Linked DNA regions of Homo sapiens: region 2 is linked to region 1. Evidence: fine-mapped expression QTL. A gene starts in region 1. The other region holds a variant in brackets. All regions are shown on one strand. Distances are between the middles of the regions. Region 1 holds the start of MHENCR (melanoma highly expressed competing endogenous lncRNA for miR-425 and miR-489). Region 2 overlaps GMEB2 (glucocorticoid modulatory element binding protein 2).

Region 1 (4,381 bases):
TTTCACAGTGTTAGCCAGGATGGTCTCTATCTCCTGACCTCGTGATCTGCCCGCCTTGGCCTCACAAAGTGCTGGGATTATAGGCGTGAGCCACCGTGCCGGACACATTTGCATTTTTTAAAAAGAGACAGTTCTGGCCATGTTGGTCTCGAACTCCTGGCCTCAAGCAATCCTGCCTTGGCCTCCCAAAGTGCTAGGATTATGGGCGTGAGCCTCCGCACTCAGCCTAAATTTGCATTTTTAAGCGACTAAGTTTGAGATAATTTGTTATGCCAGCAGAAGAAAGCTAAGTTATCTTGGAGGTGATTTTTCTTTTTTTTTAGATGGAGTTTCTCTCTTGTTGCCCAGTTTGTCTCTTGGAGCCCCAGAGTGAAGGAGGCAGAACAGGCCCCAGGGCTCACCCCAGGCCGACCTCGGTGGGCTTGCGCAACACACAGGCATGATGTAGCCACCCTCCCATCCCCAGGCCCCCCTCAGCACTCCTCTTCGACTTTATTGACATTTATTTCCAAAACGTGACGATAGGCAAACTCAGATAAATGACACACATAGACCGCGTGAACCCTCTCATATTTACCAGATAATAAAATAGTAGCACTGACAAAGGCTCAATTTTTTTTTTTATTCTTCCCCAGAGACAGGCTCTGTTGCCCAGGCTGGTCTTGAACTCCTGGCCACAGGTGATCCTCCCACCTTTGTCTCCCAAAGTGTTGAGGTAAAAGGCATGAGCCACCGCACTCGGCCAATCTAATTTTTAAAAACACCTTTTCCTCACTGGCTGGAGCACGTTCTACTTTACTGGGAACTGAATGAATGTGCAACTCTAATTACAGCCCCTCCGAAGTGCAGTGGCTTGGGAACCTCCCGTTCCGGGAGGCGGCCTGCAGAGCCCTCCTCCTACAAGTGTGAGCACAGGGTCAGGGTTCCATCCAAGCGAGCACCTGCTTCCTATTTTCCGACTAATTTCGGTCCCCTGATACGGAATCCGGGATCCTGCAGACAGGCAGCGGGTGACAGCAAGCACAAGGGTGTTCGATGACACCTGGAGAGGTCAGGAGAGCCAGTCCTGCGGTGCAGAGGAAGAAACCCAGCACAGAGGCCAACAGAGCCAGCCCCAGCCTCTGCCAATAAAACATATAAATGAGCCCTGGGGGCTGGAGGAGGGCCACAGGATCCAAGCTGGCTGCCGGATCCGAGTGGGATCGGGGTGCCGACTGTGGGACATGGGTGGGATGGGGTGCCGGCTGCGGGACTCGGGTGGGATCGGGGTGCGGGCTATAGGACTGGGGCGGGATCGGGGTGTCATCTATGGGATCGAGGTGCTGGCTATGGGACTGGGGTGGGATCGGGGTGCTGGCTATGGGACTGGGGTGGGATCGGGGTATCAGCTATGCTATGCGATCGGGGTGAGTGCCGGCTGTGGGATCGGGGTGCCGGCTGCGGGACTGGGGTGGGATCGGGGTGCCGGCTGTGGGACAGCGGTGGGATCGGGGTGGGTGCCAGCTGTTGGGCTGGGGTGGGATCGGGGTGCCAGCTGCGGGACTGGGGTGGGATCGGGGTGCCGGCCGTGGGACAGCGGTGGGACCGGGGTGTTAGCTATGGGATTGGGGTGGGTGCCGGCTGTTGGGCAGGGGTGGGATCGGGGTGTCGGCTGTGGGACTGCGATAGGATCGGGGTGCTGGTTGTGGGACTGGGGTGACAGCTTGAGGGGTGACCGAGCCCTCCCGGCCGCTCCCGGATGCCCCTCGCCCTCCACGCTGGGAGCGCCGTGGCTGGCTGAGCCTCTGGCATGTTCCGCGTGAGTCCGCGCACCCTACAGCGTCCTCCTCCACAGCCTCGTGTTCAGGCGTCCGCCCCGCAGGGGAGTCCCCTCGCGCCCATTCACACACAGCAGCGTCCGGGCGAGGAGCGCCCGTACCTGGAGGCCTGAAGGTACCGCCCTGCCGCGCGTGGGCACTGCTCCCTGGCGCCGTCCGTCCACTGACCATCGTCCCTCGGCCCGGCCGCCCGCGCGGGGCAGGCAACGCCCGACCGGGGGCCTCGGGGACCAGGAGGAACCTGCGGCGTTAGGAGCTGACAGTGTCGGTCCGCGCACGCGCCCCGGGGCCCGTCGGGCCTTATTTCACGGCCCCGCCTTCCTCCTCCGCGAGCGCCAAATAAGTGTCCGGCCCTCCCAGCCCCGTGCGTGCGCGGCCCCGCCGCCTGCGTCACTAGGAAGCGCGCGCCCGCGCCGCCGCCGCCGCCGAATCCCCAACAAGGAGCGAAGCCCGCGGCCGCCGCCGCCGCCCGCCGCCGCCGCAGCTCCCGACGCCGCCGCCCCCGCCGGGTGCCTAAGCAGGCCCGGCGCGGCCCCAGGTAAGCGGCGCCGGCGAGCCCGCGGCCCCCCCGCGGCGAGGCCTCTCGCTCCGCTCACGCGCCGCCGTCCAGTCAGGGGTCCCTGCGGAGCGTCAGGACGTTACGGCGGGGGGAGGGGAGGGCCGGGGGAGGGGCGGCCGCGCGGGCGGCGGCGTCAGGCGCAACGGCGGCGTCAGGCGGGCGGCGCGGGCGGTGGCGGGCGCGGGCGGCGGCGCTTCCTGCCTCCATCTTGGCGCCGCGGGCGGGCGCGGGCTCGGCCTCCAGCGGCCTCCTCGGTGGACCCATCCCGGGGGGACCACGCCGCAGGGGTGCGACCCGCAGGGACCACCCCGCAGGCACCCGACCCGCAGGGACGCGACCCACAGGGACCACCCCGCAGGCACCCGACCCGCAGGGGCCACCACGCGACCCGCAGGGGCCACCCCACAGGGACGCGACCCACAGGGACCACCCCACAGGGACGCGACCCACAAGGACCACCCCGCAGGCACCCGACCCGCAGGGACGCGATCCCCAGGGGCCACCCCGCAGGCACCCGACCCGCAGGGACGCGATCCCCAGGGGCCACCCCGCAGGCACCCGACCCGCAGGGACGCGATTCCCAGGGGCCACCCCGCAGGCACCCGACCCGCAGGGACGCGACCCATAGGGACCACCCCGCAGGCACCCGACCCGCAGGGGCCACCCGGCAGGCACCCAACTCGCAGGGACGCGACCCGCAGGGATCACCCCACTGGGACCCACTCTCAGGGACCTGACCTGCAGGGACCACCCCACAGGGGCCCGCGTCACTGTAGGCTCACAGGCGGGACCTGGATCTGTGTAGACCCATGGTGGTGTGGACCCTGTTGGTCGGAGCTGATTTGTTGTGGGCCCGTCGTCAGTCATGGCATGTTATCTATTTGGTTACTGTGTAATTCATGCGTGACTGAAAAGTCGTGACTGACTTTTCTGTTGAACCAGAATTCTCTTTCTTTGCTAACACTTCAAATACAACAGTTTCAATTACATCAGTGTTGACCGTGCCGGTCAAGAATACTAGTTTAAAAATATTTTCTTGGGCCAGGTGTGATGGCTCACACCTGTAATCCCACCACTTTGGGAGCCCGACGTGGGCGGATCATGAGGTCAGGAGTTTGAGAGCAGCCTGGCTAACACGGTGAAACCCTGTCTCTACTAAAAATACAAAAGTTAGCCGGGCGTGGTGGTGTGCACTTGTAATCCCAGCTAGTTGGGAGGCTGAGGCAGGAGAATTGCTTGAACCCAGAAGGCAGAGGTTGCAGTGAGTGGAGATGGTGCCATTGCACTCCAGCCTGGGTGACGGAGCAAGATTGCGTCTCAAAAAAAAAAAAGTAAAATAAAATATTTTCTCATATCTGATTTACCTAATAATTTGGAAACTCACTTCACACTAGTGGGGAACCCAAGCCTTGGGATCAAAGCTGGGTGGGTCTTGGCTTCAACACAGAAGGGGCTGTGGAGAGGCCAGGTGTAGTGGCTCACACCTATAATCCCAGCACTATGGGAGGTCAAGGTGGGAGGATCACTGGAGGTCAGGAGTTCGAGACCAGCCTGGCCAACATGATGAAACCCCGTCTCTACCAAAAATGCAAAAATTAGCTAGGCGTGTTGGGTGCCTGTAGTCCCAGCTACTCGGGAGGCTGAGGCAGGAGAATCACTTCAACCCGGGAGGCGGAGGTTGCAGTGAGCCAAGATTTTGCCATTGCACTCCAGCCTGGGTGACAGAGCGAGACTCCATCTCAAAAAAACAAAGAAGGAGCTGTGGAGAGAGGAGGGGGTGCTCGCCCTTGGGAAGGCAATAGGGCGAGGTGCTCTATTCTATAGTGCTTCTTCTGTGTCTAAAGAGCATTGTATCAAGGACTTGCACTATTTTCTGTGAGGTAACTTTTGTGCATATTGCTTTGAACCTTTAATATAGTTGCCATTGGAGGCCAGGCTCAGTGGCTCACGCCTGTAATCCCAGCACTTTGGGAGGCAGAGGCGGGCGGATCACGAGGTCAGGAGA
Region 2 (4,381 bases), 28 kb after region 1:
TCATAACTGAGAAAGAGTGGTCCACAGTGCAAGGGCCCTGACTGACCCCAGCCTGGATGAAGACCCCACTGCCTGCATGTAGGGTGGCTTTTAGCATCCAAATAAATAGTGATAGTCATGGGTCATCACTCGAGTAAAATAAAATCTATGAGTCTATATACCTATCTCCATATATTTCATGTTATTTATTTATGTTAAATAAATGCATAGAGAGAAGTAAAGCATGGGAGGAATGATGGGGTCAGAGTCATGAGCGGGTGCTCAGACTAGTTTCAGAGCATCCCTGTAAACCATGCAGCCATTGCAGACGTAAGTCGTAGCTGTGGTGGGAAAGCTGGCAGGTGCCTCCTTAACCCAGCGATCCATCTTCACATCATCAGGCTCGGGACAGACCTCCCCTTTGAGCCTCCTGATGCAGTGAGCAGGTCTGTGGTGTTCTTCCAACAGTTCATAGCCTGACTCTACTCATGAGAAAACAGCAGACACTCATGGAGAGACAGCCTACGTTAATACCTGACCCACAAGCTCCAAAAACGTCAAGGTGAAGAAAAACACAGACAGGCTGAGAAGCTGCTCCGTCTTTTTTTTTTTTTTTTTTTTTTGAGATGGAGTCTTCCTCTGTTGCCCAGACTGGAGTGCAATGGCGCGATCTTGGCTCACCGCAACCTCCGCTTCCTGGGTTCAAGTGATTCTCTTGCCTCAGCCTCCTGAGTAGCTGGGACTACGGGCACCCACCACCATGCCTGGCTGATTTTTGTATTTTTAGTAGAGATGGGGTTTTGCCATGTTGGCCAGGCTGAGCCCGAACTCCTGACCTCAGGTGACCTGCCCGCCTTGGCCTCCCAAAGTGCTGGGATTACAGGCGTGAGCCACCGCGCCCGGCCTGCTGCAGTCTTAATGGGGACAAAAGCCGAAGAGCAAGGCAGCTGCATGCTCCACAGTCTTGGGCTGGATCCTGCATCAGAAAAAAATGTAGGCTGGGCATGGTGACTCACGCCTGTAATCCCAGCACTTTGGGAGGCCGAGGCGGGTGAATCACCTGAGGTCAGGAGTTCGAGACCAGCGCAGCCAACATGGTGAAACCCCATCTCTGCGACAAATACAAAAAAATTGGCCAGGCATGGTGGCATGTGCCTGTACTCCCAGCTACTCGGGAGGCTGAGGCAAGAGAATCTCTTGAACCCGGGAGGCGGAGGTTGCAGTGAGCCCAAGATTGCACCAGTGCACTCCAGCCTGGACGACAGAGTGAGACTCCATCTCAAAAAAAAAAATTTTTTTTTTGCAATAAAGGCTATCATTGGAACAATTCATGAATTTGACTATGGACAATGGATTAGAGAATAATGTATGAATGATAATTTCCTGATGCGAGTTGTTCTGTGGCTGCGTAAGAGAAGCTTGTTCTTAGGAAATATACACAAGTGTTGAGGGCCCAGGGGCCCGACGTCTCTGCTTCACTCTCAGTAGCTGCACGTGCACAGGTCTAGGCGGGGGCAAGGGGGCAGACGGGAGCAGGCAGTGAGTCCGGAACGCACGTGTGAGAGCTCCCTGGACTATCCTGGCAATTACCCTGTGAGTTTGAAATTGTATTAGAATTAGAAGTTGGAAACACGAAAGAAATGTACCATAGGTGACATCATAATGAAATTCCAGAAGGACGGGGACAGAGAAGATCCTCAGTCTAGCCAGGAGGAGAGACGGATCGCTCAGTAGCAAGAATCCCGCCGGCCGTGAGCTCCCGAAAGCAGCGCAGGAGCAGAGGTGGCAGCGCCAGAGCCTCACTGTGTGGCGAGTGACGACACCGTGAGGTCGTCTTTGAAATTATGCTGGAAGAAAGACGTTTCCAGAAAAAGACACGAGTTTGCCACCAGCAGATCATGATGGAAGGATGTTCTAAATATGCATTGCAGGCGGAGATAGGAGGCCTCCAGATGGAAGCGCTGTGCTGTGAGGAGGTGTGAAGAGTCGGGGAAACGTGGGTCACCCGACCAGTCCTGTCTATTCAGCATCGAGAGAGACGCCCTGGAGGGCCTCAGAGATGAGAGCAGGGCCACGTGGCTGTGGTCTGGAGGGTCAGGAGCGGGCCGAGTTAGCTCCGGGGGGTCAGGAGCGGCCACGTTAGCTCCGGGGGGTCAGGAGCGGGCCGCGTTAG[C/T]GCTGGAGGGTCAGGAGCGGCTGCGTTAGCTCTGGGGGGTCAGGAGTGGCCGCGTTAGCTCTGGGCTCTGGCAGCTCTGGTAAGCGTGACATGCTGAAGCTCCTGGAGCCACTCATGAGAGTACAGCATGTAGCTTCCTAGCTGGGAGAGGAAAACCTGGGGTGAGAAGAGTAACAAAGGTGAAAGCAAGAAAGGAAAGAGGCAGGCCTAGGAGGGGCAGGGAGGTGAGGCTGGCTGAGCCCAGAGCCCTAGGTAGGATCAGGCCCTTTGGGTGCAGTTGAGTTTCCTAGGTGTGAGCCACGTTGGGTAGAAGTGATGGCCGGAAGCAGCCTCAGTCACAGCCAGTGCAGCCTTCCTGCCAGGCTCCGACAGTGGCCAGAGAATCTTCTGGATTCCACCTTCTGGACTTCTATGGGATCTCCCTGATCAGCCGCATGAGGGAGAGCCAGAGACTGGCTGGGCTTAGTGTTCCCGTCTGTGGCACAGGGGTCATGAGAGGGTGGGCTCAGGGATTGGGAACATCACTTCCTTCAGCAAGCTAGACTTGGGCACGGCCCGGGGGTGGAGGCGGCCCCCGTACTCGGGCCTCCTGGGTCCAGCTGCAGAGACCTCGTGACTCCTCCATCCCCAGCCTGCTTGTTTTCTAAGTAAATGCAGTTTTATTCCAGTTTTTGGTTTCAATAATTGCTTGTGTAACAAGATTGAACAGGATATTTTACCTTCTCAGTTTCTCTGAGCTCCCACATGGGTGAAATTAGCAAGCAGGAGGGTTCCCCTGGCTTAGAAACAGATGAGTGTGTGTGTGTGTGTGTGTGTGTGTGTGTCAGAGTGAGAGCAGGTGCCGGTGTTTGCTGCACGGGGCAAGGTGGTGTCAGGAGGGACCTGAGGAAGGTGGCGTTCACAGCTCCACCCATGTGCTGGCATCTGTTGCCATCTGCGATGTAACGTATGCAATAACGTGTATTTATAAAATACATTGCACAGAAGCAGTTTGCTTAGTCTGCCTGGAGGAAGAGAAGGCCACACACCTTCTACCTGGTGTGGTCAGCCCAGCCCTGTCTAGCCCCAGGCACACAGCAGCTCTGCCCCCTCAGGGCTGGAGGAGACACCACTCCCCACTGCAGCCACCGTGCCTGTGGGTCATGTCCTTGTTTTACCTGAATGCTCTGTAGGAGGCCTGCACCGGTCAGAGCCGTGCCGTGGCGCTTTTCCTGCCTTGCGCGCCTGACTCAGGGTCGGATGGGAGATGGGGGCACCCTATGTGGTGTCCCGGCCAAGCTTGACCCACATGACTGTGTCCCCCACAGTACGACGAGCATGTAATCAGCCCAAAGGAATTTGTGCACCTGGCCGGGAAGTCCACCCTGAAGGACTGGAAGAGAGCCATCCGCATGAACGGCATCATGCTCAGGTGGGCGCTGGCGCAGGGTCAGCCTCCCTGCTGGAAGGGGCCCTGGCAGCTCTTGCTTTCTTGTGGGGTTTTGGGATTTTGAAGATGAGGCGTATTTTAGATGTGGTGAGTGCTGACAACCTCCCGGGTGGCTGCTGCACCTGCTCACACCCAAAACTGTAAACCCGTCTCCCACACTCCTGCCAACAGGGACACTATCAGATTTTTAGAATTGTTTTGTCAGTCATTTTAATTTCCACCAATTCTTTACCTGAAGGCACTTGTGACTGTTTCAGCGTTGTAAAATAAAGGGTTGGCTGGGCACATGGCTCACACCTGCAATCCCAACACTTTAGGAGGCTGAGGCAGGAGGATCACTTGACGCCAAGAGTTTGAGACCAGCCTGGGCACAATAATGAGACCTCATCTCTACTAAAAATAAAAAAAAAATTATCTGGATTTGGTGACATATGCCTGTGGTCCCAGCTGCTCGAGAGGCTAAGGTGGAAGGATCACTGGAGCCTGGAAGTCAAGGCTGCAGTGAGCTGTGATTGTGCCACTGCAATACAGCTTGGGTTACAGAGTGAGACTCTGTCTCAAAAAAAAAAAAAAACAAGAATAAAAAGGAAAAGAAAAGGGTCTGTTCCAATTATGCATTCTGAAAATAAAAAATAAAAGAAAGGTATAATCTGGTATTTGTGCATCAGATTTTGGCCTTTTATGTTACTCCTTATTTCTGTCCTTTCTTTCACTTTTTTTTTGAGAGGGAGTCTTGCTCTGTTGCCCAGGCTGGAGTGCAGTGGCATGATCTTGGCTCACTGCGAACTCTGCCTCCTGGG

Evidence for each region. PIP is the estimated chance that this variant, and not a neighbour inherited with it, causes the effect. A credible set is the group of variants that fine-mapping cannot tell apart.
Region 2: its variant is the best candidate, but not a certain one, in a credible set for the expression of MHENCR in blood mononuclear cells (TOPMed, PIP 0.64).

The regions. Positions count from the first base shown.
Region 1 is chr20:63,624,930-63,629,310 of GRCh38, reverse strand. It overlaps MHENCR (melanoma highly expressed competing endogenous lncRNA for miR-425 and miR-489), which reads right to left and starts at 2,076. Exons shown (of 2, transcript NR_132417.1): 1 at 1,919-2,076; 2 at 487-1,121. It overlaps GMEB2 (glucocorticoid modulatory element binding protein 2), which reads left to right and starts at 2,210. Exons shown (of 10, transcript NM_012384.5): 1 at 2,210-2,355. RefSeq lists silencers at 1,769-2,218, 2,309-2,848.
Region 2 is chr20:63,596,939-63,601,319 of GRCh38, reverse strand. It overlaps GMEB2 (glucocorticoid modulatory element binding protein 2), which reads left to right. Exons shown (of 10, transcript NM_012384.5): 5 at 3,460-3,563. Among named protein-coding and RNA genes, the nearest start is that of HELZ2, 25 kb to the right of the region's middle. RefSeq lists an enhancer at 3,345-3,514. The variant C/T (reference allele first, on the strand shown) is at 2,153.